4 linked regions of the Homo sapiens genome follow. The protein of the gene in region 1 purifies or fractionates together with the protein of each later gene. This does not show direct contact. Each region holds a gene or a part of one and is shown in the gene's direction. Other genes may lie near its edges. The genes, in order: RPF1, ZNF689, STAU2 and CCDC25.

Region 1 (4,284 bases):
ACATGGTAGGCATTTTAGTAAACGTGGTATAGTGAGAAGCATGTAAACTTTATCTGTACAGACCTACATCCTCTATTCATTATTTCTAAATGGGGAACTACTGTTATTTGAGGTAGGGTAATTATTTGTGCTACACTCTTGGCAGCTTCCAAGATGGTTTGCATTCCTGGCCTTTGGATTCTAAATGCCAGTAACACCTCAGTCATACTGACAAACAAAATGCCTCTGTACATTTCCAAATGTGAGCAGCTGTCAGCAGGGGGCTTAAGCTAGGTGCAGTCCCACCGTGGTTGAGATCTGCAGTTGCCTTAGTCTGATTTACTTAGGCTAATTTACTTGACCCTCTTCAGCCTCTTTTCCTCATTACTGAAATAGGCATGATGACTCCTGTTTTATGTGATTTGTGTTAGGGATTAGCAGTAATGTAAATAAAGCCTCTTGCACAATGCAGGTACATGGGAAAAGAAGTTATTTAGAAACTGGTAAGTTTGGGTTTTGTACTTGGCTTTTGACACAGACCACAATTTAGTGGGAATGTTCTAGAAAGGATTTAAGCCTTGATTTGGGCGTTGGAAGAAATGACTTTTATATCTCCTAGACCCCTTAATAAATACTTTTGGCTGTATTTCATGAAGTTTAGCCTGTGGTGAATCTTTTAAAATGATAGAATTCAAACGTTTGCTGATAATCTGATGCATGGTAGGCACTACTATCAAAAAAAAAAAAAAAAAAAAGATCTGCCTGCAGTCCCAGCACTTTGGGAGGCTAAGGCAGGTGGATCGCTTGAGACCAGCCTGGGCAACATGGCAAAACCCTTTCTCTACAAAAATTAGCTGGGCATGATGCCTGTAGTCCCATTTACTTGGGAGGTTGAGGTGGGAGGATTGCTTGAGCCCGAGAGGTTGAGGCTGCAGTGACCCATGGTCGTGCCATTGCACTTCAGCCTGGGCTGCTGAGTGAGACCGTCTCAAAAAAAAAAAACAAAAGAAAAAAATTCCCATCCCTACCTAAGTTTTAACAGATTAGTTGGGAAGAAAGGTGTTTTCCTAACTCAAAAAGTGATGAGTGCTGTGGTAGCAGAACTGAGAAGATTTAGATCTTAATTCTGACTACATAAAAAGGTGACATTTGAAGTAGACCATAATAGATGAGTAAAACGTTGCAGGTATTCAAAATAGCAGAAGCAAAAAATGCATGCTAGGATTCACATATATAGTACATAAGACTGTGAGTACCTACCAGTTAGGAAACAGGCTTGATGTGGGCATAGGGTAAATAGGTTGAAAAGGTAATTTGTGGCCACATTATGAGTCTGATACTAATGTCTTTTTTCTGTAGATGAGTCTGTGATGAGAGTAGTATGAAATTAGCTACAGCTGTCAAGACTGTGAAGGTATCTAGTTTGTTTTTCACTTAGCATGTGAGAAACTATGGTACAGATATAATGAAACAGCTGAGTCCCATAGCTGGTTACTTATAGAACCAAGGCCTAAGTCCAGACTTGATTTTACAATCTGCATTAGGAGATGTACTTGAGATGGTGAGAAAAAGGTCAGACCAACCACAATACTACCTTAATAATCTAGGTGGAAAATCTTGAGGACCTCACTAAGACAGTAAGGGTAAAGAGGATGCTAAGTGAGAACTTCTGAAGGTAAAAGCAGTTAAGATTTGGTGGGAGAGGGAGAAGCTGAAGATACCATAGCTTCTAATCTGGAGGAATGAGTGTTGATGCCATTGTAAAAAGATGGCAACATCTGCTTTGAAAGATACATATTAAATGCAGATAGACTTGAAACCATCTGATTCTGGCCTATTTAAGTTGTTGAATCAGATGAAATGTGTTTGAAAATTTCTCCTAAACTAGAAAAGCATAATACAAAGTGAAAGCCCTGTCCATTGTCATTAATATGCCTGCTTGTAATGCCATTAAGCAATAGCCAAGAATTACTCATGAAAAGTAAAGGTGTTTCAAGTGAAGGTCAGATTGTGCCACAAACTTGAAGAATATTATATAGGTAGCAACCTTAGTTTGCAGCACCCAGGACTTCTAGAGTCCTTGGGCTGCTAGTCCTGCTGGTTGTAGGTAGGTGATCTCACATTTCATTTGTAGTTTAGCATGTCTAGCATAATTCTCAGTTCATGGGAAATGACAGTCAGTGAATGGCTATTAATTGGTTTGTTGATTATAATTTGGGGTACAGTAATCCTAAGTAAGGGGTGATCTCTTGCAAAATACTAATAACCTTAATTTCATAGAGGAAAGTTTAGGAGTCTGGTCTCATGGGATGTTATTCAAAGTTGACAGCATATCGTGACCATACAAATGTATAAAAGTGACATTTTGGGGTTATACATCTTTAGAACGTGGAGGTAAACTCATACTCTATTTGCAGTGTTACATGATTATAGAATCACATCCTATTTTACTCCTAAGAGTAGTGGTCAATTAAATAGCTTTTTTTCACCTACTTTAGTTTAGGGTACCTTAAGATACCCTATTGAGCGTGATTAACTATTATATTGTAAAAAGAGAAAAAAAGGACTACTCTAGGTTAGTCTATATTCTTGAAAGATTTTGACTGATTTTGAGCTTTTGATATGGTAGGAAAATGTCACTTCAGAGGAATATGTACATCTGCCTATTCACTTGGGTACAGATTTTAGGGGCCTTTGGATGTAGAGGACCAGTTATTTAAACAATTAGATTTAGATTACAGAGTTCAATGTGTTTTTCTTAACTTTTATGAACAGATGGACTTATTTTGAGTCACTTGCCAAATGGCCCAACTGCTCATTTTAAAATGAGCAGTGTTCGTCTTCGTAAAGAAATTAAGGTAAGTTTTATACATTTCTTTGATTGGCATTGATCTCTTCACAATATTTATTTGATCAATAGATGCTGTATCTTATAGCTCTAATTTATTTTAATAATGGCATTTGTTCTCCTGATTAGAGCAGTTTTTAATCTATCAATTCTCTTGGGAGACTGTGGTTAAGTTACAGCCGGCAGGCAATAGTCTTCATTACTATGAAGCACGTTGATTTTCTAATAGGATTTTTTTGTTGTTGCATTCAGTGCATATTAAAATAATTTTAGATACATCTTATTTCATGGGTTTGATAAGCCATCTGTGGTAGTTTGTCACTAAAAAATACATTTTGCAAATTTGTCATGTAAATTTTGATACTTGAAATTGCATTGGGACGTATTGCCAATTAGCTTAGCCCATTGTGATATTTATTTTTCATTATTTTTCTAGAGAAGAGGCAAGGACCCCACAGAACACATACCTGAAATAATTCTGAATAATTTTACAACACGGCTGGGTCATTCAATTGGACGTATGTTTGCATCTCTCTTTCCTCATAATCCTCAATTTATCGGAAGGCAGGTTGCCACATTCCACAATCAACGGGATTACATATTCTTCAGATTTCACAGGTGAGGAAGGTAAACTCATTGAACTTTGATTTCAATTATGAAATATATTTTCAACATGAACTAATTTTCCAACATATTGTAGCAAGTATCATACAAGATAAAATGAATTATCTTTTGAACCCTGTCATAATGTTAAACAATAGCTCATTCAGACTAATTTAACTCTTTTTGTCTTTGAAGATACATATTCAGGAGTGAAAAGAAAGTGGGAATTCAGGAACTTGGACCACGTTTTACCTTAAAATTAAGGTCTCTTCAGAAAGGAACCTTTGATTCTAAATATGGAGAGTATGAATGGGTCCATAAGGTATGTGCTTATTGTTTAAAAAGACTAAGTCATTTTTAAAGTATGGGATAAGAGGGTGGGAGGAGAGAGAGCATCAGGAATAGCTAATGGATGCTGGGCTTAATACCTAGGTGATGAAATGATCTGTGCAGCAAACCACTATAGCACGTTTACCTATGTAACAAACCTGTACATCCTGCACATATACCCTTGAACTAAAAAAAAAAAAAAAAAAGATACAATATCTGGGTCTGGTGATTAACCTTGGCTCATCTGAAGTATAAACATTAGTGGTTCTCAAAGCGAGACCAGCACCATTACCTAGGAACCTATTAGGAATGAAAATTCTTTGGCCCACAGACCTACTCGATCAGCAATTTAGGGGGTGGGACCCAGCAGCAATCTGCTTATAAGCCTGTGTTATATGTGACTCTACTACATGTTTCTTGAGAACTATTGATAAGTTTTCTTAGAAGTTTGGAGATCATCATCTTAAATCATAAATGAAAACTTTTTTGTTGTTGTTGTTTTGTTTTTTTTGAGATGAGTCTCA
Region 2 (3,450 bases), on another chromosome or scaffold:
TTGGCTTAGAGGGCCTTTTGACCCAGTCACTGCTAGCTCATACCTCATAGGTTTCCATATCTTGCCTTACACTCTTTTGTGTGTGTGTGAGACGGAGTCTTGCTCTGTTGCCCAGGCAGGAGTGCAGTGGCACGATCTCAGCTCACTGTAACCTCTTGCTCCCGGTTTCAAGCAATTCTCCTGTCTCAGCCTCTGGAGTAGGTGGGACTACAGGTGCCCACGATCACACCCGGCTAATTTTTAGTAGAGACAGGGTTTCTCCATATTGGTCAAGCTGGTCTCGAACTCCTGACCTCAGGTGATCCGCCTGCCTTGGCCTTCCAAAGTGCTGGGATTGCAGGTGTAAGCCACCGCGCCCAGCCTGTCTTGCTTTTACACTTTGTGTCTAAGAAGATCTTAGGGCCTGTGCACACTGTACACTGAGCCTTGGGACTTATGTTTCTTTTCTTTTTTTTTTTTGAGACGGAGTTTTGCTCTTCCACCCAGGCTGGAGTGTAGTAGTGCAATCTTGGCTCACTGCAACCTTTGCCTTCCGGTTTCAAGTAATCATCTTGACTCAGTTTCCCAAGTAGCTGGGATTACAGGCGCCCGCCAGCATGCACGGCTAATTTTTGTATTTTTAGTAGAGACGGGGTTTCACCATGTTGGCCAGGCTGGTCTCGAACTCCTGACCTCACAGTCCGCCCACCTTGGCCTCCCAAAGTGCTGGGATTATAGGAATGAGCCACTGCGCTTGGCTGGGACTTACGTTTCTAACACTGCATAATTTTAATTCTTTTTTTTTTTTTTTTTTTTTTTTTTGAGATGGAGTCTCACTCTGTCATGCAGGCTGGAGTGCAATGGCGTGATCTTGGCTCACTGCAACCTCCGCCTCCCAGGATCAAGTGATTCTCCCACCTCAGCCTCTGGGTAGCTGGGATTATAGGCACCTGCTATTGTGCCCAGCTAATTTTTATATTTTTGTAGAGACGGGGTTTCACCATGTTGGCCAGGCTGGTCTTGAACTCCTGACCTCAGGTGATCCGCCTGCCTCAGCCTCCTAAAGTGCTAGGATTACAGACATGAGCCACCACGCCCAGCCACATTTTTTAAAGAATCAGCTAAGTCAAATAAACCATCCACAATGGAATTCTGTGTAGCTGTAAAATAGAAAAAAGATTTGCTGACATAAAATGATCTTTAGAATATATTAAGTGAAAAAATGTAAAGTGTGTATAAGGTGTGTATATGTTGTCTTTTGTATAAGAAAGGTGAGCTGGGCATGGTGGCTCACGCCTGTAGTCACTTTGGGAGATAGAGGTGAGCAGATAACCTGAGGTCAGGAGTTCGAGACCAACCTGGCCAACATGGTGAAACCCTGACTCTACTAAAAATACAAAAAATTAGCTGGGCATAGTGGTGCATGCCTGTAATCCCAGCTACTTAGGAGGCTGAGGCAGGGAGAATCACTTGAACCCGGGAGGCGGAGATTTCAGTGAACTGAGATCACACCATTGCACTCCAGCCTGGGTGACAGAGCGTGACTCTGTCTCAAAAAAGAAAAAAAAAAAGAAAGGTGGGGAAGAGAACATACGCTGTAAAGCATGTGTATGCAATCTCTTATGAAAGAAAGATAGGGAAGGTGACATTTGTATTGCATCAAAAAAATGGGAAAAAACTAATATGGTTTCTACAAGGTAGATTGGAAAAAGGTGGCAGCAAGACTTCTCTGTATTCCTTTATTAATATTTTGACTTGTTTGTTTTTTGAGATAGGGTCTTGCTGTGTTGCCCAGGCTGGAGTACAGTGGTGCCATCATGGTTCACAGTAGCCTTGAACTCCTGGGCTCAAGTAATCCTCTACCTCAGCCTTCCAAGTAGCTAGGACTACAGGCAGGCACGCGTGCCACCAGGCCAGGCTAATATTTGTATTTTTTGTAGAGATGGGGTCTCACTATGCTGCCCAGGCTGATCTTGAACTCCTGGGTTCAAGCGATCTCTTGCCTTGGGCTCCCAAAGTGCTGGGATTACAGGCATGAGCAACCATGCCTGGCTGATATTTTGACTTTTGAATGATGTAAGCTTACCTCTTCAAAAATATTCCTTTTTTTTTTTTTTTTGAGATGGAATCTCGCTCTCTCGCCCAGGTTGGAGTGCAGTGGCACAATCTCGGCTCACTGCAACCTCTGCCTCCCGGGCGATTCTCCTGCCTCAGCCTTCTGGGTAGCTGGGATTACAGGTGCGTGCCACCACGCCCGGCTAATTTTTGTATTTTTAGTAGAAACAGGGTTTCACCATGTTGGTCAGGCTGCTCTCAAACTCCTGACCTTGTGATCTGCCCGCCTCGGCCTCCCAGTGCTTACGATTACAAGCGTGATCCACTGTGCCCGGCCTCAATTTTTAAAGTTAGTTTAATCTCCGAGAAATCTTCCTAGACTTCTCCAAGCTGGGTTAGAAGCTCCTGTAATGCACACCGTATTTGCATGACAGTATGTCACACTTAGCTGTCTGTGGCACTAGGAATTGAGACCAGGGGGTGAGTCTATTGGTCTTGTAACCTATAATGTAATTGACAAGAGCAGGAGCCCAGTATTTGTTAAATTAATGCTTCTGTATTTCTATAGAAAGCAGAACCAGAAAGAAGAATGGGGAGAAGGAAGTATTCCCGCCTAAGGAGGCACCCCGAAAGGGGAAGCGAGGCCGGAGGCCCAGCAAACCCCGACTGATTCCTAGGCAGACGTCCGGGGGCCCCATCTGCCCTGACTGCGGCTGTACCTTCCCTGATCATCAGGCCCTGGAGAGCCACAAGTGCGCCCAGAATCTAAAAAAGCCTTACCCTTGCCCAGACTGTGGGCGCCGCTTTTCCTATCCATCCCTGCTGGTCAGTCACCGGCGGGCACACTCCGGCGAGTGCCCCTATGTTTGTGACCAGTGTGGCAAACGTTTCTCCCAGCGCAAGAACCTCTCCCAGCACCAGGTCATCCATACAGGGGAGAAGCCCTATCACTGCCCTGACTGTGGTCGCTGCTTCCGGAGGAGCCGGTCCTTGGCCAATCACCGGACCACACACACAGGTGAAAAACCCCACCAGTGCCCTAGCTGTGGACGTCGCTTCGCCTACCCCTCCCTGCTAGCCATCCACCAGCGTACACACACGGGAGAGAAGCCCTACACTTGCCTCGAGTGCAACCGCCGCTTCCGCCAGCGCACGGCCCTCGTCATCCACCAGCGCATCCACACGGGCGAGAAGCCCTACCCGTGCCCGGACTGCGAGCGGCGCTTCTCCTCCTCCTCTCGCCTGGTCAGTCACCGGCGTGTGCACTCTGGGGAGCGTCCCTATGCCTGCGAGCACTGTGAGGCCCGCTTCTCCCAGCGCAGCACGCTGCTCCAGCACCAGCTCTTGCACACCGGAGAGAAGCCCTACCCCTGCCCAGACTGTGGGCGTGCCTTCCGGCGGAGCGGCTCCCTGGCC
Region 3 (4,284 bases), on another chromosome or scaffold:
AAAAAAAAAAAAAAAAAAAAAAAGACCTGAGCAAGAATATAGATTGGTTTCAAATCTCTGCTCTGCCACTTATTAGCTGTGTGACCTTAAGTAGGTTACTGAATTCTCTGAGCCTCTGTTTCCTTATGGGTAGGAACTATCTCACAAGGCTGTGATAACAACTCAGGTCATGGCAGGTAAAGGGCCAGTCCCATGACAATGGCGGAGTGATGCTCATCGAATGGTAGCTATTACTGTTTACATAGGTTAAGATAAATCGGTCACCACTGCCTCTTATAAATTGAAAAGAAATCCCTCTCATACTTATAAGCTATTGTATTCAGGGTTATCAGTGAGATGTGGGTTGAGTTATCTGATCAGGTAGATAAGGGACTGCCCCTTGGAAGCTTTTAAGCATACCTGTGGAGGAGAGCAGCCACGCAAGAATTCTGAAAATCCATTCGTGGCATCAAGTGAGAGAGCACGCCGCCATTCCAGACTCTAGGACATTCTTGGAGGGATGACGATCATTTTGACAGTGCACGGGGGACCTGCCTGGCATGTTGATAAAATCGTCCAGGAGATTTTGCAAGAGCTAAAACGCTGAAGCTGCTCCCTGAGACCTGGCCTTCGTCTCATATATGCAGTTCTCTTCAGATGGAAGAGAGCAGGTGCCATGGGTCCTGGACTGGGTGAAGCAGGTCATTTGGTTCTGGTGTTCAGGCCACACTAAGAACCAAGTATTCCCAGTGTACCTAGTGAAAACAGGCTATAAGTAGCCTAAAAACGATTTTTTAAAAGATTTTTAAAAATTGTTTTTAGTTGTTGTTTTGCCCTTGCTAGGAATAAAACAGGACCGAGAAGCCCTAGAGCTCGTAGGAACCCCATTCAGCAGTATCACATTGCACAGTTCCATTTCCTGGCTCTCAGTAGCCCTCTGTGATGGTGCTTTTGGGATCCAGCACTGTCACATCTGGGTATTTACCTAAAAAGTTTGAAATTTGTGTGTCAAGAGATATCTGCACCCTCATGTTTATTGCAACAGTATTCACAATAGCAAAGATGTGGGATCAACCTAAATGTCCATTAATGGATGAATGGAAAAAGAAAATGTGGTATATAGACACAATGGAATATGTTCAGCTTTTAAAAAGGAAGAAATTATGTCATTTGCAACAACATGGATAGAATTGGAGAACATTATGCTAAGTGAAATATGCCAAACATAGACAAATCCCACATGTTCTCATTTATATGTGAGATATAAAACAATTGAACTCCCAGAAGCAGAGAGTACAGTGGTGGGTACAGAGGCTGGGGGTAGGTGGAATGGGAAAATGATAGTCAAAGGGTACAAAGTCTCAGTCAGATAAAAAGGATAAGTTTGATTTTTTTGGACATCTACTGCACAGTGTGGTGAATATAGCTAACAGTTGAGTACTGCACATTTTGATATTGCTCTGAGAGTATATTTCAGGTGTTGTCATCACAGAAAATGTTAAATAATTTATCATTATGTTACAAAAAATAATAAAATTTCAAATGTAATTGTCCACTTTGGAAGAAATTCATAAATTTCAGAATTTATGCCAATAATTCACATTTTAATGGCTCAGAAGAAAAGTAACTGGTCTTTTGTTAAAACTGTTGAATATACAAAGAACTTGAAGTTCATGAGCCCACTCCGTGAAAATGGGAATATCTGGAAAAAGGTCTGGCATGGATTGGTCCTTGGAGCCTACAAGTGAGTGAGCCTGGCCTTTAGCGCCCCACGCGCATGTGTGAGGTGGGACAGTGGGCCCCGGTTGATGGACACAGGCTGTGGGCACATGCACTGCCCTCAGCATAGCCGCCTTAGCACTTCAGGACTTAAAAGGACCTCAGAGTCACTGAATCAAAGCTCCCTGAGAGTCAAATTCCTCTGTGAATTCCTTTCTTGCAGGGAGGGTGGGGAGAACTGTCCAAACCTCAGTCTTTTGAGGGTGAGTTTAATTTTTGAAAACAGCAAAACTTCAGACAAAGCCAAGTCTAGTGAAGAAGGTCAACAACCAGGATGAACACATTAAAATAAGGTGGGGCCAAAAGATGACAAAACTGGTTTGCTTCTCTGACCCACAAAATGGTTCTGAGAGGTAATTCCAGAAGCACCTAGAGTAACACCCTCCTCCCACTGCTGCTGCCGGCACAACCTCTCCAAGGGTGGATAGAGAGCTCATATTAACATCTTTAAGGCTGGGCACAGTGGCTCACGCATGTAATCCTAGCACTTTGGGAGGCTGAGGCAGGCGGGTCACCTGAGGTCGGGAGTTCGAGACCAGCCTGACCAACATGGAGAAACCCCATCTCTACTAAAAACACAAAAGTAATCTGGCGTGGTGGTGCATGCCTGTAATCCCAGCTACTCGGGAGGCTGAGGCAGGAGAATCGCTTGAACCCGGGAGGCAGAGGTTGTGGTGGGCCGAGTTCACGCCATTGCACTCCAGCCTGGGCAACAAGAGCAAAACTCTGTCTCAAAAAAAAAAAAAAAAAAATCTTTAAAAATGGACATCATCTTTGGCTCAGAAATGCAATTTTAGGAATTTATCATAAGGAAAGTATTGAGATGATGCATAAAGATTGAACCAATAGGAAATTTGATGCAGTGTTGGTATCACACAGGATATCGATAGGATACTGTGCAGTCATGAGAAATGATGCTACCGAAATGTTTCTGTTGATACTGCACACATTCAATGAAAAGAGCACACAACAGATGAACGGACAAAAAACCATGGTATATGTATACAATGGAATACTACTCGGCCGTAAAAAAAGAATGAAATCCTGTCATTTATGGCCATGTGGATGAAACTGGGCGAATGTGAAGTGAAATGAGCAGGGCACAGAAAGTTAAACACCACTTGTTCTTGCTCATGTGTGGAAGCTAAAAAGGTTGATCTTACAGAAGTAAAAAGTAGAACAGAGGATATTAGAGGTTGGGAAGGGTAGGGGGAAGAGAGGGATAGGGAGAAATTTATTAAAGGATACAAAATTATAGCTAGATATGAGGAATAAGTTCTATTGCTCTATACCACTGTAGAAAGACTATAGTTAACAGTAATATGTTCTATAGTTTCAAGCAGCTAGAAGGAGAATATTGTATGAACCCAACAAAAAGAAATGATAAATGTTTGAGATGATTGATGTACTAATTACCTTGATCTGATCACTATGCATTATGTGTATTGCAACATTGTTACCCACCCCATGAATGTGTACAATTATTATTTATCATTGAAAAAAAAAAAAGCAGGTTACCTACAGTGTTAAGACATGATCCAGGCTACAGTTTGTAGACATGGGGAGAGGATACTAAGTGATATGGAGGCTGGGGGCAGAGGCGCATGCCTGTAATCCCAATACTTTGGGAGGCTGGGGCAGGTGGATCACTTGAGGCTAGGAGTTCAAGACCAGCCTGGCCAACATGGTGCAACCCTGTCTCTACTAAAAGTACAAACATTAGCTGGGTGTGGTGGCTCATGCCTGTAATCCCAACTACTCAGGAGGCTGAGGTGCAAGAATTGCTTGAACCCAGGAAGTGGAGGTTGCAGTGAGTCAAGATCACACCACTGCACTCCAGCCTGGGTGACAGAGTAAGACTCCATCTCAAAAAAAAAGAGAGAAAAAAAACAAGTGATATGGAAAGACGTGCGCCAAGATGTGAATGGTGAGCAGGATTGTGGATACTTTTTACATTCTTTTTGCTTGTCTATATATTCTGACTTTTCTGTAACAAAAAACTATTTTTATAACAAAAAATAATACAGGGAGAGAGAGAGAAGAGAGAGAGAGAGAGAGATTTTGCTATCCTTAAAGAGAAGCTATGAGGTCCCTGTACAGTTTGCTGGAGCTGCTGTAGTAAAGTACTACCAACTGAGTGGCTTCATCAACAGGAGTGTATTGTCTCACAGTTCTGGAGGCTAGAAGTTCAAGATCAAGGTGCTGGCAGGGCTGGTTCCTTCTGAAGGCTGTGAGGGAGAATCTGTCCCAGGCCCCTCTCCTCACTTCGAGTGCTTTGCTGGCAATCTTTGGTGTTCCTTGGCTGCTGCGGCATCACTCCAGCCCCTACCACCATCTTCACGTGGCGTTCTCCCTGTGTGGGTCTGTGTTCCAGTTTCCTCTTTTTATAAGGATACCAGTTATATTGGATCAGGGACCTACCCTACTCCAGTATGACCTCATCTTAACTAATTACATCTGTACTAATCCTATTTTTAAATAAGGCCACATTCTATAAGGCCCCATTCTGAGATACTGGGGGTTAGG
Region 4 (4,284 bases), on another chromosome or scaffold:
GGTCTTCAGTTTTCAGTTTCTACAGTTCATATTTACTTGGGTATCTCACTATGACTTCAAATGCGGCATGTCTCAAACCAGGCACATCTTCTTTGCAACATTTTCCCATTTCTCCTATTTTTTTCAAATTGCCCAAGCTACAAACCTTGATGTCATTGTTGTTTCTTCTCTGTATTCCTTCTTACCATTACAGCTGTTAACTCCAGGGATTCATGCCCTCAAATTGGAGTATCGCAATAAGCTGTGGCCTGATAAGAGTATAAGCTTAGGAGTCTGACCTGGGTTCAAAACCTGGCATATCTTCTTATCTCTAAGACCTTGAACAACTTACTTAACCATCCTGACTCTGCTTTCTTATTTTGTACAATGGGCTTAAAATACTCTGGTAAATACTGTTATTGTGAATGGACCTTCTTGTCTTAACCACCTCTCTAATCTTGTTTGCTACAGATTATTCTTTTCAAAACATTGGTATTATGTAGTCTCACTTTCCTTTGTCTCTTGGTGTATTTGTTGTTGTTGTCGTTTGAGATGGAGTCTTGCTCTGTCGCCCATGTTGGAGTGCAGTGGTGCAATCTCAGCTCACTGCAACCTCCACCTCCTAGGTTCAAGTGATTCTCCTGCCTCAGCCTCCTGAGTAGCTGGGATTACAGGTGCACGCCACCACGCTTGCTAATTTTTGTATTTTTAGTAGAGATGGGGTTTCACCACATTGGTCAGGCTGCTCTCGAACCCCTGACTTTGTGATCTGCCCGCGTTGGCCTCCCACAGTGCTGGGATTACAGGCGTGAGCCACTGCCCCCAGCCGTGTATTTTTTAATAGTGCTTTTCACCATAGTTATTGATGAATAAGTCTTATTTCCCCTCCCAGTAAGTTCTGTGGGTCCAGGCTTTGTGTTAGTCATCATTTTCTGTTTTCTTCTCATCCGATCCTCTACCCAGGCTTAGCACAGGGTCTTATGCACATGGATATTTAATGAATGCCCATTGAACCTCATTATGGCTTTACTCAGTTGTGTATTATGGCTTCTTGCGGAACACATTGTGTTCAGTCGTGCAATCAAGACAACATAATTGGGCACCACATCCAGCCTGATTTCCCACTACTTTATTTGAGAACCTACCTGAGTTAGCTGGATATTCAGCAAGTCATTAAAGATACCATCTCTGTCTCTTTGCTCATCCCACTCTCTGGATCTGAAATGCCCCCTCACTCATCCTGCCCACTTGATTGGCTTGGTTTGGGTTCCGCCTTGTCTGTGAAGGGTGCCCTGACAGCTCCTGCCCACACTGATGTGTTTCCTCCTTTGAATTCCTGTAGCGTTTACAATCTGAGCTGTATACCTCAGCTGTGAATCTTATCAGATCTTGGCTGTAGGTGAATTTCCCCATCTGAAAAGTAGGAATAATGCCACCTGTCTCGCCAAGTTATTGTGGAGGTGGTGACATGAAACAAGTAGGAGAAAGCACTTTGTAAATTATAAAGTGCTGTGCACATCTTTTTTATTGTTTATAAATATTCATCCTTTGAATGTTGCAATCTCCTTGAGTGCAGAGATTATATCTAATAGCTCTTGTGTTTCTTCTAAAGCCCCTGAGCAGTGCTGGATACACAGGAAATGTTCATCAAATATTTGTTGACTGGATCACCATATTTTAAATGTGTGTGTGTGTTTTTTTCCTTCTAGGAGCTATTCATCACTAATGAAAGTTGAAAATATGTCTTCAAATCAGGTATGTTCAAGTGGTTTGCATGAATGTTTGCCTTGAAATAATTCACTAAGGGTTTTTAATAATTGTGTTACTGGCCATTATTGCCTTACATGTTGCAAATAGCTAACCATGATTTGGCAACCAGGACACCACTCAGGCTGGATTCTTTTAGGCACTGCACCTCCTTCCCTGTGGACTTTCTCATTTGTGTTGTTAAGTAGGTCATCTCAGGGAAAGAGATTGTCAGAGCTTGTCTACTGTGGCGTACAGGTCTATTCATTTTATATTTACAGGACTTTATTCTTTATTTCCCCTCTTTTCTGGTTGCAGGCATGCAAAAGTGCCTTTATTTATTAGTGTTCTTTATCACTGTGACTGTAGAGTCCATATTATAATTGAATGAGAACAAAATTATCACCTTCAATTAAAATAACTTACCCTAAGATCTTATGTGACTCAGTGAAGCCTAAGTGACAAAATTGTTTGTTTTCATGTTCCTTAGGACCTGGGATAGAAACAGATGGTGACCTATGACATAGTACTGAAAGGATCTTCTTAACATTGCGTCTAATTATTTGATTGGAACTATGTCAGAGAATTATTGTCCTTGAGGGCTGTCTTTCCCAAAATTTATCTTGAAGTGTCTAGAGATAGCACAATTTAGCTGCTATTGAGCAGTCTGCAGAAAATGGAAACTGGGTGGATGTATTTGGGATTTTGCATGTTTTATAGTATAGTTTAAAAATATAGTCATCCTTCAGTATTCATGGGGGATTGGTTCCAGGACTCCCCGAAGCTACCAAAATCCTAGGATGCTTGAGTCCCTTGTGTAAAATGGAGTAGTATTTGCATATAACATATGCACATCCTTCCATATACTTTATCTCTAGATTACTTATAATACCTAATTAGTGTAAATGCTATGTAAATAGTTGTTATACTGTATTTTTTTAATTTATATTATTTTTATTGTATTTTTTTAATTGTTTTTTTCCTCTAAATATTTTTGAGCTGAGGTTGGTTGAATTCACAGATAAAGAAATCAAGGGCCAACTGTAACAGAATTTAAGATCCCTTACAAGTCATCTAGTCAAACCTCAGATTTAGTGCATGAATTAGAAGTAATAGGATTTTACATCTTGTTTATATCTACATATTCTTCTAAAAATTTGTAAGAACAACATTCTTATTCCCATCTCTATGAAGAACTAAATGTACGAGGCTCCTTTATGAATCAGAGATGTTTCTTTATAATTTATTCCTGAAAAATTCCAGAATAGCATTATTAAATTAAATAGAGCTTTGAATTTGAAGTTTAGAGACTTAACTGTCATGTGCTAATTGAGGTGGGGGGGATTAAACATCCCTTGGGCAAGGGAACGTTGTCACAGTGGTTGGGTTAGATCCTAATAAAGTCATTTAACCTCTCTGAGGGAGTATTCATCATCAGTAAAATGGACACATATTATTTCACAGGGCTGCTTAGAATTGAAGCAAAGACACATCGATGTGAAAGTCTTCCTTGACCTACTTTGTAAATAGTCATACCTTATCCAGATAGTCTTTGGTTGCTGTTTTTCCAGAATATCATTATGAAAAGATGAGATGTGTTTAATCCTTTCTGGAAGCTAATTTTAGATTTCTTGAAACTATTGGAACAGTTTAACACTAAACAGTAGTCTTCAACATACCACAACTCAGATGCCATTGTTGTGGTTATTTTGCTTATTGAAGTTTTCTGTGTTTTAGAGGCACTTTCCACCAGAAATCTAGCCCCCATATTATTTCATGACCTTAGTCATTTTATTCTCATCATTTTGGATTTTTAAAGCTTGTATATAATTCTAGAGTTGAGAAATAAACAAATACACACACACACACACACACACACCTACCTACCGACCTACATACATACATATACAAACACCATCTGATCAGTGACAGATGTTAAAAGTCCCGAGACTAGGAAATTGAATTTGTAGCCCAAAAGATTGCTAATCTTTCTACCCTAACTCTCCCTCTGTTGCTTGCAACCCCTGTTCCTGAGCTCCAAGTATGAATCAAGTTCAAGATTCCAAGGAAGTTTTGCACTGGGTGTTTTTATTCTCTCTTTCAGTGAAAATGTTTTCCTAGTTTTTCTCCATACTTTAAAAGAATAGACTAATTCTCCTTGTAACCGTCTTCTGTTAAGGGATACAGATGTTTGTGTTTTGTTTTGTTTTGTTTTGTTTCCATAAGTTATTGGGGTACAGATGGTATTTGGCTACATGAGTAAGTTCTTTAGAGGTAATTTGTGAGATTTTGGTGCATCCGTCACCCAAGCAGTAAACACTGCACCATATTTGTAGTCTTTTATCCCTCACCCCCCTCCCACTCTTCCCCCTAAGTCCCCAAAGTCCATCGTATCATTCTTACGCCTTTGCATCCTCATAGCTTAGCTCCCACATATCAGTGATAACATACAATGTTTGGTTTTCCATTCCTGAGTTACTTCACTTAGAATAATAGTCTCCAGTCTCATCCAGGTCACTGCAAATGCTGTTAATATATTCCTTTTTATAGCTGCATAGT

The links.
Region 2: the proteins of RPF1 (region 1) and ZNF689 purify together in Homo sapiens (affinity purification with mass spectrometry; one large-scale study listed by BioGRID and IntAct). This does not show direct contact.
Region 3: the proteins of RPF1 (region 1) and STAU2 purify together in Homo sapiens (affinity purification with mass spectrometry; one large-scale study listed by BioGRID and IntAct). This does not show direct contact.
Region 4: the proteins of RPF1 (region 1) and CCDC25 purify together in Homo sapiens (co-immunoprecipitation; one large-scale study listed by IntAct). This does not show direct contact.

The regions. Positions count from the first base shown.
Region 1 is NC_000001.11:84,492,619-84,496,902, forward strand, and holds part of RPF1 (ribosome production factor 1), read left to right. Parts: intron 1-2,754; coding exon 2,755-2,837; intron 2,838-3,263; coding exon 3,264-3,445; intron 3,446-3,625; coding exon 3,626-3,752; intron 3,753-4,284.
Region 2 is NC_000016.10:30,604,600-30,608,049, reverse strand, and holds part of ZNF689 (zinc finger protein 689), read left to right. Parts: intron 1-2,602; coding exon 2,603-3,450. UniProt on the Homo sapiens protein: May be involved in transcriptional regulation.
Region 3 is NC_000008.11:73,425,153-73,429,436, reverse strand, and holds part of STAU2 (double-stranded RNA-binding protein Staufen homolog 2), read left to right. Parts: intron 1-4,284. UniProt on the Homo sapiens protein: RNA-binding protein required for the microtubule-dependent transport of neuronal RNA from the cell body to the dendrite.
Region 4 is NC_000008.11:27,737,922-27,742,205, reverse strand, and holds part of CCDC25 (coiled-coil domain-containing protein 25), read left to right. Parts: intron 1-1,688; coding exon 1,689-1,734; intron 1,735-4,284.